Regions from separate parts of the Homo sapiens genome. Here all the other regions are reported to be linked to region 6. Evidence: microRNA targets listed by miRTarBase, many of them from high-throughput screens and not tested one by one. Region 6 holds a microRNA gene; each other region holds the end of a gene's coding sequence.

Region 1 (4,093 bases), not on the chromosome of region 6:
CAGGGAAAATGGTGGGCTTTGCGGAAGGGAGGGGCTCGGATTGAGGGCACCCCACAGGGCATACTGGCTTCTCAGGTGGAAAAAAATGAAATGTTAGAGTATAAAGTCAAGTCCAGGGCTCTGAATTTTAAAAGGTGCCTAGTAGGGCCTCTGTCCTCAGTGCTTATCAGTCCACCAAGAATTCAGCCCATTTTCTCTCTCTTGTCTCCTAGGAGTAATGGAGTCCAAAGAGGAACTAGCGGCAAACAATCTCAACGGGGAAAATGCCCAACAAGAAAACGAAGGAGGGGAGCAGGCCCCCACGCAGAATGAAGAAGAATCCCGCCATTTGGGAGGGGGTGAAGGCCAGAAGCCTGGAGGAAATATCAGGCGGGGGCGAGTTAGGCGACTTGTCCCTAATTTTCGATGGGCCATACCTAATAGGCATATTGAGCACAATGAAGCGAGAGATGATGTAGAAAGGTTTGTAGGGCAGATGATGGAAATCAAGAGAAAGACTAGGGAACAGCAGATGAGGCACTATATGCGCTTCCAAACTCCTGAACCTGACAACCATTATGACTTTTGCCTCATACCTTGAATCCTAAAAGTTTTCGCTGAGGTTAATGTGAACACTGCTTTACAAGCTTGTATTTTTGTGATTTACTTTTTCTGTAAGCCTTTTGGGGTTTACACTTACCAGTTTCTAATGGAAATTAGAATTCTAATTGAATATTGTTTTGTCTCAGCCTAAAAGTTACGGTCAGCATGGCAATTCACCTATTTTAGGAAAAATACTCTTTTCATAATATGAAATGCATAAAGCAGTTCAAAAAGCAGTCTGTATTCCATCATCTTCCTTTTTCATTCCAGTCCTTATTTTTGTAAGTATTACTTTTCCTCCTCCGGCTACCTGGACTCAAAATCTCAGTTGTCTTTGACAGTTTTTTTCTTGTCCCTGACCAAAAAAGAATGATCATACCCAGAATTCAATGTTTGATATTTTAAGAATGTATGTTCTAGTGTTTTTCAGAGTGAGTCTACCATCTGTATAAAAACACCTTGGGGGCAGGCAGGGGCATTTAAAAATGTAGGACCTATCGTCCAGACTCACAGAGTGGGGCTCCAGAATCTCCATTTTTAACAAACTCTCTTAAGTAATTCTGATGTGTACCAAAATCAGTGCCATTGGTGTGTGTGTACGTAACTATATACATATGTGTGTGTGTGTATATATATAATGTGTCATAACCGTAAACAATAAACAATATCAAGATAAATCTGACTTTGATGGGCAAGTAATTAAAAAAGAAAAGTATGAGACCTTAAAATAAGACTGATGATTATAGGAGTGGTAGGGACAGTGGCAAAGTTATTCACTGTGCAAAGCAAAACATGCCTGAAGGTCACAGCCTGAGGAACTCAGAATTCATCACCCCTGTCAGCAGTTTCACATCCAGGATCTCATTTTATTCTTAGAACAACCTATAAAATCTGTATTGTTATCCCACTTTTACAGATGAGGTCACTGGGGCTTAGAGATGTTAAGTACCAAGGCTAACTCCTGCTGAATATCTTGGGGGTGGGGGAATCCAGCCTGGGCCATTTTCTATTGGACCTTATCATCTGGAGATGCAGAATATTTGACTTTTGTAACTTGATGACAAGCTGAGGATGGTAAAAGAGACTCAGCAAGAATGGGGCTGTTTTTCTATACACTGTTTTTCTACATCTCAAGTACACTTTAATTTTTAGAATATTGAGGGATAAAAAAAGTAAGATCCTCTAGTGTTGTTCAAAGTTAGGATTGCCACTCTATGGCTCTTGAAATCAGTTTTGTGGGTTACAACAAGCAATTTTTTAAAAAGAGAACAAAAGTCATCCTATCACCCGTGAGTAGTGTTAAGAATTGTTTTGGAGAAAATAATGTGTTCTATGTAGTAAATATTGCCACCTTTATGATGTATTTCTAACTAGATCACAGTGAAAAAAGAATGAAAATCACTTATTTGGTGCAAACTTGGTTTCACAAGTGAAGAATTGTTAAGAAAGCGATTTTTCCTAAGGTCATACAGCCAATTAGTGAAAGCTGTGACCACAGCCTTGGTGCTTCAGGGTGCTTGTCTTCTCACCACATTGCCTCCACAAAGAATTATTTGGAAATTTTTGCATTATGTACTGATTGCCAATCAGTGTAAATGGAAAAGCATATACAACTTATGCAAAAATCACTTTATATGAACTTCACACTATTTAGTCATCAGAATTCCTGCATGTTCAACTGAGAACCACATTTAAGGGAAACTCTGCCTCAGATAATTTTGGAGCTGGAGTGATCTTTCACCTGTCTAGAGGAAGAGGATGATATAGAGTCTGATTTGAAAATGCACAGTGGTGAACTCAGGCACTTCAAAAAGGCTAGTTGACTGAGTAGAGTCCATGAATGATCTTTTGGTTCCTCTGAAAATGAGTACTATGCCTTCTGGCAAAGACCAATTGTGGATTTCCCAAAGTAGCCTCAATCTACCTCCCTCACAAAAAAAGCTAGCTGTGGGGGTGTGAGATCAGAACATGATTAGTTGAAAGAAAGCTGAAGCCTCCTCACTGGGGTTTTTGGGGGAGAATGAGGAATAAGGACAGACTTTCTGGAAGAAATAAAAGTGTCAATGCTTGGGTTCAGAATATGGTTTTTTGAAGTACCAAAATGAGCCCTGTCTCCTTGGTGTTTCTGGGAGAGTGGGATGATAAGAACAGAATTTGCTGGAAATGGTAAAGGTCAGGGAACGGGGTCACAATGTAATTGGTTGAAGGAGAACTAAATTAAGACTCCTATCGTGGGAGTTTCTGTGATGGTAGGCGACGAGCACAAAACTTTAGAGGACATAACGTTCAGTGACCAGAACATGATCAGGAGCGTGATTGAAGAACTGAAGAAAACTCCCTTACCTCTGTGTTGCTGCAAGGGTGGAGGAGTAAAGAGAGAACTTTCTAGAAAAAGCTAGAGGGGGCTGGATCAGGTGACTGAAGAAGAACAGAGCTATCACAGCGAACACATTTATACATCCCATGGGAGGGTCAACTTTCCTTGATCTTGGTGGGCAATACATTTTGTCTTTTTAAGGTGACAACAGAGAGATGTCAGTGAATGCCTCTAAAGAGACTAGCAAGAAAGTATAATGACTCTTTTATAAAAACCAACAAAAGCAAATAAACCAAGAGTGAAGAAAAAGGGCTAACACATTCATCCCTATCAGTGGTTTATACATTCATATTTGTAAAATTTTAGTTTCTTGAGGAAAATGTGCATGTTTTTATGGATTTTGGAGCAAAGCTTGGGAAGGATGCCTGTCAACTAATGCCTGGCAAATCTTCCAGAACTTAAGAGGAGAAAGACTGACAAGACCTCTGAGAAGAGGAGAGTCAGTCTAATCTTACACAGCAGCATATGCTGCTGTCTTCATATTACAGAAATTGGAGATATCACTGAAGAAGTCTTTAAAAAGGCCAGTGTTATGGACCGAATATTTGTGTCCCTCCTAAAATTAAAATGTTGAAAACCTAATTCCCAAGGTGATGGTATTAGAAGGTGGCGCTTTTTGGGGGGAATTAGGTCATGAAGGCAGAGTCCTCATGAATAGGATCAGTACCCTTATAAAAGAGACCCCAGACTGGGCGTGGTGGCTCACGCCTGTAATTCCAACACTTTGGGAGGCTGAGGCAGGCAGATCACGAGGTCAGGAGATCGAGACCATCCTGGCCAACATGGTGAAACCCCATTTCTACTAAAATATAAAAAATTAGTCAAGCGTGGTGGTGCGCACCTGTAGTCCCAGCTACTGGGGAGGCTGAGGCAGGGGAATCGCTTGAACCCGGGAGGCAGAGGTTGCAGTGAGCCGAGATCATGCCACTGCACCAGCCTGGTGACACAGCAAGCAAGACTCCGTCTCAAAAAAAAAAAAAAAAAAAAGAGAGAGAGAGACCCCAAAGAGCTCCTTCACCTTTTCTGTGAACCAGGAAGCAGGCCTTCATCAGACACGGAATCTACCAACACCCAGTCTTGAACTTCACAGCATCCAGAATTGTGAGAAATAAATTTCTGTTGTTATAAGCCACT
Region 2 (4,093 bases), not on the chromosome of region 6:
TGTTCTTTAATACGAATTCAAGTACAAAGTTGCAATGCTTCACCAAAACCTATGGTATAAATAAGCTGGGTGCAGTGAGAGACTACTCAGAATGGCCATAGTATATGCGATTATTGACTCTGTGAATAGCCACTGCACTCCAGCCTGGGAAGCACTACACGACTCTGTCTCTAAAAAATAATAATCTATGGTATAAACCAAGCCTTTGACAAGATGCTGAATTCCTACAGGGTTGTATACAAGAACTGAACCAGAAAATGTACTAGATGTATCCCAGCTATGGTTAAGTTGGCTCTTCCTGAACACCTCAGTGACATAAAATCTTTGAATTTCCAAGCCTCTATTTTACCTCCTTGCAGTAAACTAGCAGGACCCAAAACAGTCCTTGAAAATAGCAGGCAAAGAAAGGGGAACAGATGTAAGTGAAATTTTGGTTTTGTTGTTGTTGTTTTGGGACAGGGTGTCTGTCACCAAGGCTGGAGTATAGTGGCATGATCACAGCTCACTACAGCCTCAACCTCTTGGGCTCAAGTGTTCCTCTCACCTCAGCCTCCCAAGTAGCTGAGACTGCAAGCACACACCACCATGCCCAGCTAATTATTAAACATTTTTTTTTTGTAGAGATGGACTCAACACATTACCCAGGCTGGTCTTGAACTCCTGGGGCTCAAGTGATCCGCCTGCCTTGGCCTTCCGAAGTGCTGGGATTATAGGCATGAGCCACTGCACCCAGCTTAAACTCCGCTTTATAAGCACAGACATAAACTCTTGAGGATGGAGGAAAAAAATGCACAAAGAGCGTGTAAAATATGTTTTATTGTTCTTTAAAAGGGTTCAGGGTTTGGTTTTAAATCAGGCTGCACACCTTTCAAATCAATCTGACATCTCTCTATGTCAAACTGGCTTCAGCTAGCAATACTTCATTAAATCGAAAAGAAAAAAATTGCTTTAAGGAAAAAAAATCCAGTTTTAAGAACAATTAACATTAGTCTTTAAAATAAAAGGAGGGCTAATGTTTCATGTTGCTTTATACATCCTTCTCCTCAATACAGAACCAGGAATGTAATTTTCCTAACTCAGGCAGGCACTGATACTGATGGACACTGCGCGTGCACACACACACACACACATACACACACACACACACACACACACACACACACCCCCTCCCCCCAAACAACAAAATTCAGAGTATGTCAAAGGAAAAAGGTTTGTTATTGTATTGATCAAAACCCAGTGGAATCAACACCATCTATCTTAGCTTAGCAGGTATGCTGTTTTGATCTTGAGTCTATATTAATGGAATCTATTGTTGCATTCTGAAATAAAGAATTTTGGATATACCATTATGTTTTAAAGTCCTAGAAACAATTTCGAAAAGCATTATTTTGTTTTGTTTTCTGGGATGGGAGAGGAGAGAATCTACAGATTTGCGTTTAGTTAAAAATCAAAACTCCAGCATAGGAAATAGGCAGTTCACATAGCCGGTCAACATGTGAGGTATCATCAGTGTGAGACAAGGTCCCGGTCTGTTCCTATTGGCCTAGCTGACGCTAACAAAATGGGAGGCTTATGGCTCTGCACAGCAAATTCCAGCAGGACAAGATGACTTTAAGCCCGTATTCAGAGCCCTAGAAGCAGGGCACTACTGAGTACGTAATATTTAGAGGTGAAAATAGTGCAAGAGCCCCTGATGGTGCCCCTCTACCTGCTTTGTCCATGCAGCCTGATCATAACTGCCTTCCACAAAGGAGCAGAAAAACAGCTTTTCTAGATCAGTACACTAAACCCAGCCAAGAATCTGCAAAAATGCTACTACACCGCTTCACAAGCAACACAGTCCCTTCACTACTCATTGGGTTGCACGATGTCTCTCTTCTACCCTGTTATGGCCTGTGGACACATACTCACTAGGCATCATTGTTGGTTTTAAACCAGGGATTTTTTTTTTTTAATCTCAAAAAACCTAGTAATAACAAGGCAATCAGTGGTTAAACTGAACTTTACATATAGGGGGCAGTTTGGAAAACACATACCACAAGCATTTCTCAAGTCGAAAATATGTGAATTTGCTGCTGCTCCTTTGACGGTTCCTGAAAATTCAGAGTACAAGTCCTAAAATAAAAATTTTAAGCTACCAGCATTCTCTGATACTAGACAGAAAATCAGAGTAACGCTACAGCCCACAATTCTACAGGGTGTAAAAAGTACGCTCACTGCCTGGACATCTTTATTGATGGCCTGGAGTCCTCCCTTTTAGAAGACAAGTTTCTGGGATAACCACTTAGCTTCATTGGTTAGGGAAGAGAAGAATTCGACTCTCAGGTAAGTTGAGAAGAGACTCCTCTTAAAATGCCATTTCTCCACTAATTTATCAAAATAAAAACAAAACAAAAGGCTCTTGGCTACTTTGCCTAGTATTAGATAGGGTTTTGAAGAAACTAACATGAACACCCTTTCATCAGTAAAGACTAAAAACCACCTGGAAAATATATATATATATATATATATTATATTATATATATATATATATATATATATATATATATATATATATATATATATATATATATATATATATATCACTGCTGTTTTTTTGGTGTTGTTTTTTGTTTTTTTTTTTTTTTTATCTAAAAGTGCCCAGGTGGGCTTAAGGCTGCCAGACTGCACGCACATCTACAGCAACAAGGGCTTCTATTCCATCTACAACTTGGATCGGGGGAAAAGGGAGATGTAGGAGAGGAAGGAAAAAAGAGGGGAAAAATATACCACCAACCCTCCCCCACAAAAAAAGGGAAAAAAAAAATCCCACCACAGGGAGATCTATGTGCCAAGCATAATGGAAGAGTGTGCTCCCCAAACAGATGGTTTTGCACAGGCTAATGTTCTGCTGGTTTTCCTTAGAGACCTATTTTGAAAAAGTTTAAAAAGACAGGAGATTTCAAAATAATTCAATCCTGGCAGAAATTCAAACTCCAAAACTAGGAGCAAAATCATCCTTCACTGAATTAATTCCTTTTCTCTTTCTCTTTTCTTAAACATTTTATTCATTTTATAGAGAGATTTCTTTTTTGTTTGCTTTTGTTCCAATCATTAGGAGAGTGGTTGAGGAGTACTGAATCCATCACTACTTTGATGACACAGGTAATATTCCAGATTCACATTTCCAGGTACCAAGAGTTCCCTCTAAATGGCACAATCAAGTCAGCCTTCGTTTACATTTCCTTCTACTGAACACAGCAATGCCCATTGGTATCTCTGAAGCGTAATCGCATCTTAGGTCGGTATTTCTCCAAATAAAGCAGCTGTTTGGAATTGAACGCTCCCCTTCTTTTTCTGAAAATACAAGAATGGCAAACTTTATCATGTAAAAAAAGAGCTGTCTGATTCACTGAAATGCATTATTTACATCCTAAAGCCTTTCTAATTCCACACAGCTGAAAACCAGCATATTTCCCATACTACAACAATTCTTAAAGAGCTAAGTTGCAACATGAACTTTCTAAGCCCTCCTAGAAGGAATAGAAAAATTTTTCTTGCTGACTGTCATTATAGTCTATTAACCATTTAATAAAGATCAGAATAGTTTCTACTTTCGTTTTCTTTTTTTAAAGGAAGGGTTGAAAGGGAAAGGGCAAGACAAAAATTGTCAAAGAATTCTGGATAACAAAATAGCATGATTCGTTATTCCAGATCAATGTCAAGATCCTGTCTGTGCACTACCATCCTGATTTTGTCCCTGAATAGATCACTTAAGAGTCCCAGGTGAGGCCAGGCGTGGTGGCTCACGCCTGTAATCCCAGCACTTTGGGAGGCCGAGGTGGGCGGATCACGAGATCAGGAGATTGAGATCATCCTGGCCAACATGGTGAAACCCCGTCTACTAAAAATACAAAAATTAGCTGGGCGTGGTGGTGCGTGCCTGTAGTCCCAGCTACTTGAGAGGCTGAGGCAGTAGAATCGCTTGAACCCAGGAGGCAGAGGTTGCAGTGAGCCGAGATTGAGCCACTGCACTCCAGCTTGAGCAACAGAGCGAGACTCCATCTCAAAAAAAAAAAAAAGAGTCTCAGGTGATTAACTGCTCCTCTACACA
Region 3 (4,093 bases), not on the chromosome of region 6:
ATCGAATGTGATACTCTTTCCAGGAAAAAATCAGCTAGATTCAAGTCAGATAGTGGAAGTCTAGGAGATGCCAAGAATGAGAAAGAAGCACCTTCGTTAACTAAAGTGTTTGATGTTATGAAAAAAGGAAAGTCAACTGGGAGTTTACTGACACCCACCAGAGGCGAATCCGAAAAACAGGAACCCACATGGAAAACGAAAATAGCAGATCGGTTAAAACTGAGACCCAGAGCCCCTGCGGATGACATGTTTGGAGTAGGGAATCACAAAGTGAATGCCGAGACTGCTAAAAGGAAAAGCATCCGGCGCAGACATACACTAGGAGGGCACAGAGATGCTACCGAAATCAGCGTTTTGAATTTTTGGAAAGTGCATGAGCAGAGCGGGGAGAGAGAATCTGAACTTTCAGCTGTAAACCGGTTAAAACCAAAATGCTCAGCCCAGGACCTTTCCATCTCAGACTGGCTGGCCAGGGAACGCCTACGCACCAGTACCTCTGACCTTAGCAGAGGAGAAATCGGAGATCCCCAGACAGAGAACCCAAGCACACGAGAAATAGCCACGACCGACACACCTTTGTCTCTTCATTGCAACACAGGCAGTTCTTCCAGCACCTTGGCTTCAACAAACAGGCCCCTTCTTTCCATACCACCACAGTCACCTGACCAAATAAACGGAGAAAGCTTCCAGAACGTGAGCAAAAATGCTAGTTCTGCAGCGAATGCCCAACCTCATAAACTGTCTGAAACCCCAGGCAGTAAAGCAGAGTTTCATCCCTGTCTTTAAACTGGGGGTATGTCCACTCTAGCAAGTAAAAAAACTACTGTTACACGTTCCAGTAACTCTGTCAATATTTTCTTGTATCAGAATTGTTATTATGCAGCCTTCATTTGGGCTGGTTTCATCATTTTGCACTGTGAAATAGCTTTACAGTGCATTACTACAGCCAGAAGAACATATATATATATATATATATTTAAAAATATATCGGATAGTTGTATACAAATGAGCAAGGTATTTGTTGCAACTTACTACATAGCATATACCCAAAATCACTGAAGAAAATCGCTGGCATCAGTGTGCAGCAAATTTGTTCTTTTGGTTTCATCACTAACAAAAGTGCCTCATCATAAAAATACAGTTGGTTTTTAGGGTGCCATATTGTTAAAATTAGATAACTTACTTACATTGAATAAACGAATGCGTTTTATTGGTAACAGATATCATTACATTTACCAGTTTTAACACAGGTGGATACAGAACTTCCATTCTTTAGTCATTCCAGGTGGATCTGAGTTTTATATTCAAACTTTTAATACAGTTTTTGAGTTTTGTGTGACTTGAATTTTTAATCTTTCTGTAAAATACGTAACTTAAATGAACATATTAAATGTGTATCTTTTCTTCAGATACCAGATTTGATATAATGTTGTAACATAGGTGTGTAGATAGTGGATCCTGGATGGAACTGGCTTCTTTATCGAGAAGAATATAATTCTGCATGAGGACTTAATGAATCCAAACCTGTGTCATGCCTGTGTGCATACCCAATTAAACACTGGAAATAAAAATTGTTTTGGTGAATTTTGCATGGCTTGAAACTTATTCTGATATATTTTTAGATGTCATCCATTTATAACTACCTTACATGATTAATTGGTCCTGACTTTAAAAAGGTGCCTACTATATTTATACATTCCATCTTCTCCTCTTTCTTGCTGTGGTGGGTAGAGACTCTTTCTTACAGATGCTTACATTAGCCTAACCTCACTTGTTGACTGATAGTGTTTAACTCTTCTAGGTAAAGTAATGTATGTTATGTTAATGTTCTTTTCGTGAGTGAAACGAACATGAGTTTGGAGTCAGTCCAGCTCTACCTAGGTATGTGAACTTGAACACATTATTTAACTTCTCTGAATTTGTTTTCTCATATAAACAGTTAGTTACAGTAACACTACCTATTATAAGGGTGATTAGATTTAAATGAGATACTGTTCCACTTACAGTGCCTGCCACACACTAGTTTCAAAATAGAACAAAGCTATTGTTGGAAGTAATGGTTACAAAAAAATCTCAGACTGTTAAGGCTGAGAAGGACCTTAACAGTCATCAAATCCAGAGATTGTCAACTGTCAAACATGATACTTTCTTAAAAGTATTTTGAGATTTCCCCTTTACCATCATGAAATTCATAATATATCTAAATATAACTTTACATTGAGTATGTTATGATATAGACCATAATCCCCTATTATAAAAGAAAAATGAAAGTGATTTATAATAAAATAAATTTTTCAATATGCAAATGCTCAGGTACAACTACATCATGAAAATAATATAATGGAATAGTCAGATGTTTGCTCCAGTATATAGAGTCACTAACAATGGTAACTACACATGGAGATGGTACCATGAATAGTTTGCTGCTGGCGATGAGATTTTACTAGGAGTCATGCTCTGCTTTTAAAGTTTTGAACAAAACAAAGCACACACTTCCCTTAGTTTACATGAGGGGGAGTTCTTGCAGTGTATTATTAAAAGTGTCAAAAACACTTTTTACTTATATGTTTTAAAAGTTACTTTCAAGGCTCAAATAGTTTTATATTATTTGTTCTTGCTCCTCATTTTTTCTATATTTTTTTTTCTTTTGAGAGAGAGTCTCACTATCAGTCTATTGCCCAGGCTGGAGTACAGTGGTACGATCATCACAGTTCACTGCAGAGCTGCGACTGACAGGCACATGCCACCATGCCCAGCTAACTTTTTTTTTTTTGTATTTTTTGTAGAGATGGGCTTTCTCCATGTTGCCCAGGCTCATCTCAAACTCCGAGGCTCAAAGCGATCCGCCCGCCTTGGCCTCCCAAAGTACTGGGATTACCGGCATGAGTCACCACGCCCAACCTTTCTTTGGCTATAATTTGCTCGACTTTTTAATTTCTTGAGACGATTGCTTGGAAAATTGATTTTTAGTTGTTTTCTAATATCTTCATTTTAAGGCTATATGCTGTATTTTTATTATCATTCATTTCAAAATGCTTTCTAGTTTGCATTCTGATTTTTTTCTTTAACCTGTGAGTTATTTAGCAATGTATTGCTTAATTTCCAAACATTTGAAAACTTTCTGGTTATGTTGACTCCAGCATAATGTTACATTATCATTAAACATACATTTGAAATTGAGACATCCATTTTGACCCCACTATATGGTCAATTTTGAGAAATAACACGTCTACTTGAAAAGAATATGTTTCTATCCTTACTGGATGCTTTTTATTTGGTGTATTAGGTCAAATTTAATCATGTTTTACAGATCTAGATCATTATAGATTTCTTCCCTGGCTCTTACCAGTTCCTGAGAAGTGATAGAATATTATGATATGAATGTAGATTTGCATATCTTTTATGTCAATCTTTTATTTTGAAGTTAGTTTACTAAGTGAACATAAATTTAGAATTGTTACGTCTTTGTGGTAGATTGACCCTTCTATTATGAAATGTCCTTCATAATGAGTCTCAACCAAAGCTTTATTACCTTATTTTATATATTAATGTAGCTATATTAGTTACTTTTGGTTAGTATTTGCATAATACATCATTTCCATCCGTATTAATCCTTTTGTATTTTTCTCATAACAGCATATAGATTTTCTTTAAACATAGTCTCTTAGTTGGAATATGTAACCCAGTTACATTTAATATGATTATTTATGTGTTTGGATTCACATCTACAGCTGAACCATTCATTTTCTCCATGACCAGGGCATTTTACCTACCCTTTTCTCTTGTTTCTTGCCTCTTTTGGATTAATATTTTTATTATACCATTTCCTCCTATTAGCATATTTATATGTTCTTTTCATGGACATCCTTGACTTAACTGAATATAATTTAAATTGGATTCTACTTTGTGTATTTTTTTGTAGAGACCAGGTTTCATCATGTTGCCCAGGCTGGTCTCAAATGCCTGGGCTCAAGCGATTTGCCTGTCTTGGTCTCCCAAAGTGCTGCGATTACAGGTGTGAGCCACTGCACCGACCTGGCACATTGCAGCTTTACTAGGTTTTGTCAAATTAATCTCCAGAGTTCGCCGGCAG
Region 4 (4,080 bases), not on the chromosome of region 6:
TCACCTCTGCATTCCCATCCTGTTCATTTTCACTTGCCACTTTCTTATTTGCAAATAAGAAAGTACCTGCTATTTTCCTCAGCGAATCTGCCATTGAAAATTGCCTCTTGGTCTGTGTAAATTTAAATTGCAGTAGCTTATTGTTTTCATAGGGTAGTTGACATCTAATACCTCTATTCTGAGAGGGGAAATCATTTTTTTTTGTAAAACTAACTGCTTCTCTTTATTTTCTCCCTATACCAGCTACAGGCCATATAGCTACCGGCACTTTGCACCCCCCACCACACCCTGCAGCACAGATGTTTGTGACAGTGACTATGCTCCTAGTCGGAGAATGACCTCAGTGGCAACAGCCAAGGGCTATACCAGTGACTTGAACTATGATTCAGAACCTGTGCCCCCACCTCCCACACCCCGAAGCCAATACTTGTCAGCAGAGGAGAACTATGAAAGCTGCCCACCTTCTCCATACACAGAGAGGAGCTATTCTCATCACCTCTACCCACCGCCACCCTCTCCCTGTACAGACTCCTCCTGAGGAGGGGCCCTCCTCCTCTGACTGCCTCCAACGTAAAAATGTAAATATAAATTTGGTTGAGATCTGGAGGGGGGGAGGGAGCTATTAGAGAAGGATGAGGCAGACCATGTACAGTTAAAATTATAAAATGGGGTAGGGAATACTGGAGATATTTGTACAGAAGAAAAGGATATTTATATATTTTCTTAAAACAGCAGATTTGCTGCTTGTGCCATAAAAGTTTGTATAAAAAAAATTTGTACTAAAAGTTTTATTTTTGCAAACTAAATACACAAAGCATGCCTTAAACCCAGTGAAGCAACTGAGTACAAAGGAAACAGGAATAATAAAGGCATCACTGACCAGGAATATCTGGGCTTTATTGATACCAAAAATAAAAAAGAGGAAGAAGAAAAATTAAGTCCATCTCAGAGCAGCAAACCATAGATACATGGATGTAGCCAGATAGCCTTCAGTTAACTAACATTTGAGGGCCAACAAGTAAGAAATGATGAAAGGAAAAAAATGCAATTAATACTAACCTTGGACGAAGGGCTTTGTTTTCTCTAGGAATCCAACAGTGCTAGTGAGGAAAGTAGATATTTCTAAAAACCCATTCTGGGTGTTGCTGTTGTAGGAGAGATCAGCCCTCTGGTAAGATGCCATGAAGCTGTGTGTGTGTGCAAGTCTCTGTCCCTACCTTTAGAATCCATACCTCTGTCAAAATGAATTTTTTTCTCTAGGTATGTTTACCTTGCTGCCTCCTCCAGCAACTTGGTAAGTCATTTTGCTAAGATACCATGATTTTTTTAAGCTGAAGCATTGACTAAATGGAATTTTCTAAATTAAACTTGATTTTAATATTTCTTCTAGCTCCATTCCCCAGTAGGCTTAGCTCTTCAATTTGACTGCTGTTTTTGCATAATGATCAAAAGTTAGACATATTATTTCTCTTCTTCCAAGATTGTTTTAATGCTCATTAAAATGTCTTTTTACAACACATATAGACAATGTTTAAGAATTAAAAATTTAACCATTATGTTTTTGTTGTAAATCTCATATCCTTGCACTACTTTCAGCATATATCACAGTACGAAATCATTTATATATATATATATATATATATATATATATATATATATATATATATATATATTTTGTTTGTTTGTTTGTTTTCTGAGTAAAACATTTAAATATGTTCTGGTTAGAGACAATCTATTTAAAAAGATTTTTTTCTTATTAGGATTTTCCCTATATTAACAGTTTGTGATGTTTTCATGTTCTTTAGACCGGTTTTTCTCAGAATAATGTCTACATACATACCTCTTCTAATGTGTGACATGAATTTAATATCTTTCTGTTACCCACTGTGAATGTTAGGCTGTTTTCAAATTATCCACAAATTATTCTTGTAATCACCCAATATTTTTATGTGGGTCCTCTCTTACCCATTATGGATTAAGATAGTTTAACAAATTTAACAATGAGGATTAAATGAGAAGGCAAACTGTTAACTTCTCAGCTGTCAGAATTTGGGTGGAAGGGAATAATGGAAGCCTCTTTTGTGATCTGCCTGACCTGCTGTCATGTATGGTACTGGGGCTGCTACATCTTGAGCTATCAGGGCTGACCTGTGGAATGATTCTAGCACTTGCTCTGCCACCTTGCCAGAAGTTCGTTTCCTGCTTTTTACACATGTGTAGCACTTCTCTGCTAAAATTGAATGGTTTTAAACTAATGTATTTTTAGCTTAAGAGGTGTTGGTCAGTTAATTATTGAATTTTTTTTTTTTCTTTTTTAATTCTGTCTTGCCAAGGCCTCTCTGGGTTTCAGGGCCCAAGAGAAAACAGTGGAAGAAAGGATTCAGAATTTGGGCAAGGGTGAAGTAACTGTTCATGCAAGTTAAAAATACCTAAGTAAAGTTTTTGAAGATAAAATTGTGGTTTCAGAATAATGCTGATTGTTGGAGACTGTAAGAATCAGGTGCACTTGATTTTGCATATAAGCAAATGGTAAATCTATCAGAATCCTAAAACAGACAAGCATGAACTCTTCCCATTGCTGGAACTAAGTGCCCACAGTGTCAGACAAAATGGACATTGAACTTGGATTCTGTGATACACAGGGCACTTGATGCTTAAATGAAGATGGAAAGGTTAGCAATACCTGGGTGTCAGTTAGAATTTGAGAATTCTATATGTTTACATATTTAAATGTGCATCTTGATCTGGTGGGCTTCCCATGTGGAGACTTGCACTCTAATTAACTAAGAAGAATATTGCCTTGTTGGATCTCAGTCCACGTGCTTGCACTGCGATGGCAATGGCCTCTTCTTCAAAATACTAATTTGTGTGCCAATTTGTTTAAAATTATTTGAAGGCAGTTCAGCCTAATCTCAGTGTTCTCTTTCTGGGGTAGATGAGATGGATTCTTAATATTTCTGGGAGTACTTTTTAATGAGAGAATTGTCAAATTTGGAAAGATTTATTGAGCCTTAGGTTACATGGACAGTTAAGCTTAAGTAAACTGTATATTGATTATCAAACACAAGCTGTAATTGGAAAAGTTGAGAGGAAAAGCATGAGATCACAAATTAGGGGGAAAAAAGAAAAGGGATTTTTAAATTTGGTGTATTAAATTCATTGTCCAAGGGGGAAAATGAATAATGTTTCATTAGATTCCTTATATGCAAAAGTATTTATTTTGAACATGTGTCCTAAAATATATGCACTAACTGATGTGATTAAAATTGTCCAAGAAATAAACTTGAGCATAACATACTTTGTGTGCACCACAGTAAGCTATTCTGCATTGAAGTGGTCTTTTATAACTAAGGCCTGGACTTTGCTCCAACAGAGTCGTGGTCTTCTGAATAGTGACTTAAGGAGTTTTGTTTGCTTAAGTCAGATAATAGCACATTCACAGGGAAACAAAGAGAGTTGGTGGATAGAATTTTCTGACTATTAATTTTTCTTCCATGAAATTTTATTATGCCTTTGGCACTTTCTGCCACTCTTACAGCATATCACAAGATATCTGTTTAGCAGAAGATTATGTAGTTACTTTAATTTTAATATAAAAGTAGCTTGTGATACATTACCAAGAGATCTCTGATTCTTTAGTAAGTTTGAGAACACCTATTCTACAGAGATGATAGGTACTTAGAAATGAAGACTTTAAAGTACATTTTAATCTAATATAGGCCAGTAATTGGGGGAAGGGGCTTTGAGCAGTACAATTTTAAGATGATTTTGAGGGTTGTATTTCTTTATCATTTAAAAATATCCTAAAGTCAGTAATTTATATGAAGGAAACTCATTCATTATTGAAGGTATTAAAAATAGCCATCATCTGTATTAGGTAGCAGTTTTGGAGGATCATCTTTTTCTTTTGCTATAAAGCCCTATTAATGAAGAATACTTCCAGTAGAGTTAATAGCTGTAGCTTACCTAGTGTGTTAATGAAGTGTGTTTATTTATGTGACTTGATACCAGTAGTCATAATAGAGACTGAAGAGGTATGCGTTAAGCACGCCTACTTCTATGCAGTAAACAGGCTGCAGC
Region 5 (4,093 bases), not on the chromosome of region 6:
TTTCTCTAAATACCGTTTGTTCTAATACTGTTTGTGAACATATTTATGTTGTCTTCCTTATTAATACTTACAGATCCTTAATTTAAAAAGGAAACAAAAACCTATTCTTTTTTTTTTCCTGCATTGCATTAAGAAATTAAATGAGCAAGCCGCAGAACTCTTCGAATCTGGAGAGGATCGAGAAGTAAACAATGGTTTGATTATCATGAATGAGTTTATTGTCCCATTTTTGCCATTATTACTGGTGGATGAAATGGAAGAAAAGGATATACTAGCTGTAGAAGATATGAGAAATCGATGGTGTTCCTACCTTGGTCAAGAAATGGAACGTAAGTTTAAACAATGGTAGTAGGCACCTGAGATGTCCGGATTAAATGCAGTTAGAATTAGATGTTATTTATTCTTGCCATTTTTTATATTAAATACAATATTAAGTATTAATATTTTCACATTCACATGATTACTCTTTTTCCATATTGATGAACTAAGCTGTGTGCATTGCAGTTGCCATTTATGTTTTTGTCTCCCCAAAATGGCAATTATCTTACCTATTAGAGTAAGTTAATATTAGTAAATCATGTTGACAATGATCGTGTAATAATTTCTATCTTTAGTTAGATTTAATTGTTTGTATTTGCAGCACACCTCCAAGAAAAGCTGACAGATTTTTTGCCAAAACTGCTTGATTGTTCTATGGAGATTAAAAGTTTCCATGAGCCACCGAAGTTACCTTCATATTCCACGCATGAACTCTGTGAGCGATTTGCCCGAATCATGTTGTCCCTCAGTCGAACTCCTGCTGATGGAAGATAAACTGCACACTTTCCCTGAACACACTGTATAAACTCTTTTTAGTTCTTAACCCTTGCCTTCCTGTCACAGGGTTTGCTTGTTGCTGCTATAGTTTTTAACTTTTTTTTATTTTAATAACTGCAAAAGACAAAATGACTATACAGACTTTAGTCAGACTGCAGACAATAAAGCTGAAAATCGCATGGCGCTCAGACATTTTAACCGGAACTGATGTATAATCACAAATCTAATTGATTTTATTATGGCAAAACTATGCTTTTGCCACCTTCCTGTTGCAGTATTACTTTGCTTTTATCTTTTCTTTCTCAACAGCTTTCCATTCAGTCTGGATCCTTCCATGACTACAGCCATTTAAGTGTTCAGCACTGTGTACGATACATAATATTTGGTAGCTTGTAAATGAAATAAAGAATAAAGTTTTATTTATGGCTACCTATGTGTTTGTAAGCAGGTATATTGTATATTAGTGTATTAGTAATACTAGATAAATGAATTTTGTCTGGGGATTAAGATTGGATAGTTAATAGATTAATACAATCTTTTAATTCTGCTCTAATGCTAGCAAATTGGAAAATGTTTAAGTCTTTGACACTTAAATTTATCTATATTTTTAACAAAGTTCTTGAACTTAGTATGGCACCGGAACCTGTTTTGAATTCAGTCAGGTTTTTACTCAAGTAAGTGGTTGATTTTTTTTAAGTCAAACTACACTGAAACTTTTATCCTTTTCTTAGATTAATCTTACTTTTTAAATGTATTTACAATATACAGCAAGGTGATTATTTCAAGAGAATCCCAAAGTACTTGAATAAGGGCTATTGTAAAATTTAAAAGAAATATTTATATATACACATATATACACATACACACATGTATATATATATTCTTCATAATGGAGGACAATGTTTTGCAATATATAAATCATTCTATTTTTGTAAATTGTATATCACTTTAATTGAAAATGTTCTCTACTAATTAATACTGTGAAACAAAATTGATGTTGTTTAACTAGAAGTTATGAGTATCTTAACTGCCTTTATTCCTTTTCAAAAAGGAAAAAGCTGTAGAACATTTTGTAGATGAAACTACTGTTTAAGATTAATGAATTAATATTGTGAATGAAAATCAAAATCCATACTTTAAAGGTAATCATGTTACTAACAACCTATTTTTGAATTCATAAAAATTTCTTTATAAATGATGTTTTGTGAACATAGTAAAATAGACCATTATACTATGTGTATGTTTGATACAGCGTCGCCAAAACTAGTGTTCTTTATTAGTGCCTCTCACAAAAGATCCTGGATGGAGGAGTAAGATGAAATATTATGCTATTATATGATGCTGTTTGTAAAGGTATTAATGTACTAGTAAGGTGTTAATGACAAGGAATTAGTACTATTCCTGTTGTAAAGTTAGATTTTGCATATTGTATCTATCAAAATATGTTTGGGTTTAGATTTTAAGTTGTCTACTGAGCAGATTTCTGCATTGGTTTTCCAGTCCTGTTAAAAGTTTAGAAACTTCATATGTGTCATCACAGCTTTTGTAAAGAAAGTATCCTTAATATTTTATGACATTCTACCACAGTGGTAAAGTTGTTTGTGTTTGTGTATAATTGACTGCTGAGATACAAAGTGCCCAAACACTATATGGAAATTATTCCTTCAAAGTCACATCCAGAGAATCATGTCACTCTTGTGCTGAAGGTAAGTATTATAATTGTATTTACTATGTACTTAAAAACCAGATTATTTATTCCTAGTAATGAATTTGAAATAACTTATTTAAAGAAAAGTGACCTTTTTCAAGACCTACAGAAACAACTTATTTTAATATTGGTTTTTAATCTAATTGTAAGGTTTAGATCATTGAAATTTCTTTTTTTTTTTTTTTTTAAATTTCCAACTTTTAAGTTCAGGGGTCCATGTGCAGGACATGCAGGTTTCTTACAGAGGTACATGTGTGTCATGGTGGTTTGCTGCACAAATCATCCCATCACCCAGGTATTAACCCCAGCATCCACTAGCTATTCTAACTGATCCTCTTCCTCCTCCCAGCCCCCACCCTCTGCCAGACACCAGTGTGTGTTGTTCCTTCCACCATTGAGTCCAATATGTTCTTATCGTTTAGCTCCCGCTTATGAGAACATGCAGTAGTTGGTTTTCTGTTCCTATGTTAGTTTGTTCAGGATAATGATCTCCAGCTTCATCTGTGTCCCTGCAAAGGACATGATCCCATTCCTTTTTATGACTGCATAGTATTCCATGGCGTATATGTACGTTTTCTTTATCCAGTCTATCACTGACTGGCATTTAGGTTAGATTCCATGCCTTTGCTATTGTGAATAGTGCTGCAGTGAACATACACGTGCATGTTTTTATAAGAGAACAATTTGCATTCCTTTGAGCATATATCCAGTTACGGGTTTGCTGGCTCAAATGGTATTTCTCTCTTTAGGTCTTTGAGGAACCATCACAGTCTTTCACAATGGTTGAACTAATTTACACTTCCACCAACAGTGTAAAAGTGTTCCTTTTTCTCCATAACCTCGCTACCATCTGTTGTTTTTATGACTTTTAATAATAGCCATTCTGACTGGTGTGAGGTGGTGTCTCATTGTGGTTTTGATTTGCATTTCTCTAATGATCAGTGATACTGAGCTTTTTTTCATATACTTGTTGGCCTCATGTATGTCTTCTTTTGAGAAGTGTCTGTTCATGTCGTTTGCCCACTTTTTAATGGGTTTTCTTTTTTCTTGTCAATATCATAAGTTCTTTATAGATGCTGCATATGAGACCTTTGTCATATGCACAGATTGTAAAAATTGTCTCCCATTCTGTAGGTTGTCTTTTTTACTCTGTTGTTAGTTTTGCCATGCAGAAGTTCTTTAGTTTAATCAGATCCCGTGTGTCAGTTTTTGCTTTTGTTGCAATTGCTTTTGACACTTCGTCATGCAATCTTTGCCCATTCCTATGTCCTGAATGGTATTGCCTAGGTTTTCTTCTAGCGTTTTTATAGTTTTGAGTTTTAAATTTAAGTCTTTAATCCATCTTGAGTTGATTTTTGTATATGGTGTAAGGAAGGTGTCCAGTTTCAGTTTTCTGCATATGGCTAGTCAGTTCTCCTAGCACCATTTATTAAATAAGAAATATTTTTCCCATTATTTGTTTTTGTCAGGTTTGTAGAAGATCAGATGGCTATAGGTAGGTGTGTGGTCTTATTTCCGAGTTCTCTATTCTGTTCCATTGGTCTCTATGTGTCTGTTCTTGTAACAGCA
Region 6 (4,093 bases):
CACATTCTTGAGACACGGCTTTACAAATTTATATCCTTAAAAACCTAGATTGGAGTGCCTTCTTCACACATCCATGTCTAATATGGATCATGTTGAGTATCTTTGGATATATTAATTTTGCAATTTAATTTCAGAAAAAAGTAGTATAACACTATTGTTTTGATTTATATTTTTCTAATTGCAAAAGTTTTCTAATTTTCATGTATGTATTGGTAATTTGCATTCTATTCCTATAGAATTGTATATATTTTATTTTGTAATTTAGTATTGCTTCTTAAAAATAAATATTGACATTGTATATCATTTCGTTACATATATTGTATGTTTTCCTAATCCATCATGCATCACATACTTTGTTTTCCATATAAATTGTCATATATGTTTATTAACTAACTCATAAATACTCATATCTGTCACCATTTTTTAATGCTTTCTTGTGTTTTGTCATGTTTAGGAACACTTTCCCCACAATTCACAATACTATCTGACAGGTGTTAGTATACCTGTCAGTGTTCTTGGTTGTAGATGACTGAAATCCATTCCAATTGACCTAAACCAGGTAATAGATTATATTGGATAAATCATATAATTATTGGAAGGCTAAAGAAACAGGCTCAGAACAGGGCAGCCCCATGGAAACCAGGTTCCAGAATGGCAGTAAAATCCCCCCACAGGAACAGTCTGATGAGATAGCGCTGCTGCCACCGTGGCACTTCCTCCCCTAGGGCCTGGGATATTTGATGGTTAATTTCTGTACCTCTGTGATGAATACATACTTGTTTGTTTCTTACTGTTTTTACTTCTTGCTTCTGTTTCAAATTTCTCCCCGAAGCCATCTGTTTTAGTTTCCTCAGGCTGCCATAACAGATTAGCATAAAACAAATGGCTAAAAGAACAGAAATGTATTCTCCCCCAGTTCTAGAAGCCAGTTCAAACTCGGGTGTCGGCAGGATTGCATTTAATCCAGGATTCTAGGAGACAATTCTTTCTTATCTCTTCCAGTTCCTGGTAGCTCCAGATGTTTCTTGGAGCTACACTTGGCTATTTAAAGTTAATTTTAATGTTTAATTAACTAAACATTAAAATAATTAAAAAGTCAGTCCCTCCATTGTGTTAGCTGTATTTGAAATACTCAAAGGCACATGTGGCTACAGGCTACTATATTGGACTATGCAAGGGTAGAACACGTGTTATCACACAATGGTCTCTTGCACAGTATTGCTCTAGAATATTCCCTGGACAGAAAAGTTTTACCTGTGGGGCATTAAACAACAAAGAGCCTTACAATTGCCTCTGACTTGTATAGTAAAGCCAACAGTTGTTTGTTGTCATCGTCAGAAAAGTTGATTCCATATTTGAATATGGTTTCACTGCTTGTCATGCTTGGCCAATGCCACAAACCATGGATTAACTGATGGCCTTCTCCACTCTCATGGCTATTCACCCCCAACAATAGAACTTATTTCTTTCATGTTGCCTCATATGGCAGAATCCCCTTCTATTTTAAGGCTGAATAATATTTCATGGTCATATACATATATACACACACACAGTCATGCATTGCTTAACAGGGAAATGTACCTTAAGGCAATTTTATCATTGTTTGAACATCATGGAGTGTCCTTATCCAAACCTAGATGGTATTGAGTGGATGCTGTTATATATACAGCCATGCACTCTGTAGTTTGGGTACACAGTGCATGGCTGTATATATAACACTATCCATTCATCTTTCAGCAGGACTTTTTTTTGGTCACAACCCTGCTAACCAAAACAGGATCTGGCCAGAGAGCATGAAGTGAAGAAACTGATAGGAAGTGGCAGATGTCAACAAAAGCAATCTCTAACTACTCATTGCAATTTAATTGTCATGGTGCTGGTGGTAGTGTCTTATGCTAATGAGCAATATGAGCAGCCTGGCAACACAACCCAGAAGTTACCACCTCTTTCCATGGCAACAACCTAAAAGTTACTGCCCCTGCCTTAGAAAGTTCTAAACAACCTGCCCCTCAATTTGCATTGGCTCACCCCTCAATTTGCATGCATTTGACCTGCCTTAGAAAGTTCTAAACAACCTGCCCCTCAATTTGCATTGGCTCACCCCTCAATTTGCATGCAATTGAATGTGGGTCTCGCTGAGTATAAATACCGTTGCCAAGAGACCATATGTTGCTGACTCTGATTGCACTGCCTATGATTTAGCCCTGCTCTGCAAGGAGCAGTACCATTCAATAAACGATTGCTAAGACTCCTAGCTCATCCTTGAATTTTTTCCGGGGTTAAGCAAGAAATCCTCCCTGGCTAAGCCCCAGTTTGGGGCCTTGCCTGTCCCACAGCAGTGTAACGTACTACACACTTAGACAATATGACATAGACTGTATCTCCTAGGCTACAACTCTGTATAGCTTATTATTATACTGAATGCTATAGGCAATTGTAACACAATAGCATCCGTACATCTAAACATACCAAAACAAAGAAAAATTACACTAAAAACACAGTATCGTAATCTTATTGGACCACATTTATATATGTGGTTTTTTGTTGACTGATGCAATACACAGTGCATGGCTGTATATGTAACACTATCAGTCACCATTCAATGAGCAATTAGGTCGTTTCTATACTTTATTGCTACTAACACTACAATGAAATACATATGGATAAACCTAGAGGGCATTAAGCTAAGTAACTCTTACTTCTAAGATTTCTACCTTAAAGAGTCATATTTATGGCCTTTACTTGAGGTAAACTTCAGAAGCCATTTGTTGTGGATTAGGTAACGTGTGGAGAAATTGCTTTGTTGGGTTTTTCTTCCTTTGCATTTTAGTTTACACATATTAATTGTATGTATTTATAATCTGCAGAGTGATATTTTGATAAATGTATATGAAGTGTAATGATCAAATCAGAGTAATTAGGATAAACATCACCTCAAACATTTATCATTTCTTCATGTTTGGAATATTCCAAATCTCTTCTAGTTTTTTTAATATACACTATAAATTATTATTAACTATGCTTACCCTATAGTGCTATAGAACACTAGAACTTATTCCTCCTGTCTAGCTGTGACTTTGTATCCATTAATCAACCTTTCTCTGTCTTTAATAACATTATCAAACTGTGATTACCATAATTCTACTCTATACTTCTATAAGCTCATTTTTTAACTCCCACATATGAGAGAACATGCAGTGTTTATCTTTCTGTGCCTGACTTATCTCACCTAACATAATACCTTCCAGGTTTATCTGTGAATGGCAGAATGACAGAATTTTATTTTTCATGACTGGATATTATTGTATTGTATATATATGCCACAATTTCCTCAACTGTTCATCTTTTAAAGAACATTTAGCTTGATTCCTTATCTTGGCTATCACGAATAGTGCTGCAATAAATATGGAGATACAGATACGTCTTCTATAATTGATTTATTTTCTTTGGGTAAATACCTAGTAATGGGATTGCTATATCATATGGTGGTTTTATTTTTAGTTTTTTGAGGAACTTCCATACTATTTTCCATAATTACTGAACTAATTTGCATTTCCATTAACAGTGTACAAAACACAAGACTTGCTTTTTCTCCACATCCTTGCCAGCATGTTACTTTTTTTTTTGAGGCAGAGTATCAGGTCTCGCTCTGTTGCCCAGGCTGGAGTTCAATGGCGTGACCTTGGCTCACTGCAACCTCTGCCTCTTGGGATCAGGCAATTCTTCTGCCTCAGCCTCCCAAGTAGCTGGACTACAGGTACGTGCAACCACATCCGGCTAATTTTTTGTATTTTCAGTAGAGACGGAGTTTCACCATGTTAACCAGGCTGGTCTCGAACTCCTGACCTCAGGTGATCCGCCAGCCTCAGTCTACCAAAGTGCTGGGATTACAGGCTTGAGGCACTGCGCCTGGCTGCTTTTTTTCTTTTTATTATAGCCATTCTATTATATACACTTCCCTGATCATTAGTGATGTTGAGCAGTTTTTCATGTATCTGTTGGCCATCTTTATATCTTATTTTAAGAAATGTCTGTTCAGATTTTTTTTGCCCATTTTATAAATTATATACATATATATTTATATCTAGAGATA

The links. The annotated mature microRNA hsa-miR-5011-5p reads UAUAUAUACAGCCAUGCACUC and lies in region 6 at 1,659-1,679, shown strand. An mRNA with a match to its seed (bases 2 to 7 or 8) in the 3' UTR can be bound and repressed. Matches are read on the target gene's strand: a 7mer-m8 pairs with bases 2 to 8, a 7mer-A1 pairs with bases 2 to 7 and ends in A, and an 8mer does both.
Region 1: the mRNA of BEX4 is a reported target of hsa-miR-5011-5p. Seed matches in the 3' UTR shown: 8mer at 1,210-1,217 and 8mer at 1,212-1,219.
Region 2: the mRNA of PTP4A2 is a reported target of hsa-miR-5011-5p. Seed matches in the 3' UTR shown: 7mer-A1 at 2,577-2,583, 8mer at 2,575-2,582, 8mer at 2,573-2,580, 8mer at 2,571-2,578, 8mer at 2,569-2,576, 8mer at 2,567-2,574 and 34 more.
Region 3: miRTarBase lists ARHGAP21 as a target of hsa-miR-5011-5p. Seed matches in the 3' UTR shown: 7mer-A1 at 957-963, 8mer at 958-965, 8mer at 960-967, 8mer at 962-969, 8mer at 964-971, 8mer at 966-973 and 2 more.
Region 4: miRTarBase lists LRP6 as a target of hsa-miR-5011-5p. Seed matches in the 3' UTR shown: 7mer-m8 at 713-719, 8mer at 1,621-1,628, 8mer at 1,623-1,630, 8mer at 1,625-1,632, 8mer at 1,627-1,634, 8mer at 1,629-1,636 and 19 more.
Region 5: the mRNA of USP25 is a reported target of hsa-miR-5011-5p. Seed matches in the 3' UTR shown: 8mer at 1,655-1,662, 7mer-A1 at 1,666-1,672, 8mer at 1,687-1,694, 8mer at 1,689-1,696, 7mer-m8 at 1,691-1,697 and 7mer-A1 at 1,726-1,732.

The regions. Positions count from the first base shown.
Region 1 is chrX:103,215,937-103,220,029 of GRCh38, forward strand. BEX4 (brain expressed X-linked 4) reads left to right here. Exons shown (of 3, transcript NM_001080425.4): 3 at 213-1,310. The coding sequence starts at 218. The coding sequence ends at 580. Among named protein-coding and RNA genes, the nearest start is that of BEX4, 2.9 kb to the left of the region's middle.
Region 2 is chr1:31,905,625-31,909,717 of GRCh38, forward strand. PTP4A2 (protein tyrosine phosphatase 4A2) reads right to left here. Exons shown (of 6, transcript NM_080391.4): 6 at 797-3,336. The coding sequence ends at 3,228. Among named protein-coding and RNA genes, the nearest start is that of PTP4A2, 31 kb to the right of the region's middle.
Region 3 is chr10:24,581,105-24,585,197 of GRCh38, reverse strand. It overlaps ARHGAP21 (Rho GTPase activating protein 21), which reads left to right. Exons shown (of 26, transcript NM_020824.4): 26 at 1-1,584. The coding sequence ends at 786. Among named protein-coding and RNA genes, the nearest start is that of ARHGAP21, 140 kb to the left of the region's middle.
Region 4 is chr12:12,117,584-12,121,663 of GRCh38, reverse strand. It overlaps LRP6 (LDL receptor related protein 6), which reads left to right. Exons shown (of 23, transcript NM_002336.3): 23 at 244-4,080. The coding sequence ends at 538. Among named protein-coding and RNA genes, the nearest start is that of MIR1244-4, 7.7 kb to the right of the region's middle.
Region 5 is chr21:15,877,663-15,881,755 of GRCh38, forward strand. It overlaps USP25 (ubiquitin specific peptidase 25), which reads left to right. Exons shown (of 26, transcript NM_001283041.3): 25 at 134-329; 26 at 641-2,402. The coding sequence ends at 813. Among named protein-coding and RNA genes, the nearest start is that of USP25, 150 kb to the left of the region's middle.
Region 6 is chr18:67,079,949-67,084,041 of GRCh38, forward strand. It overlaps MIR5011 (microRNA 5011), which reads left to right and starts at 1,636; the gene lies at 1,636-1,738.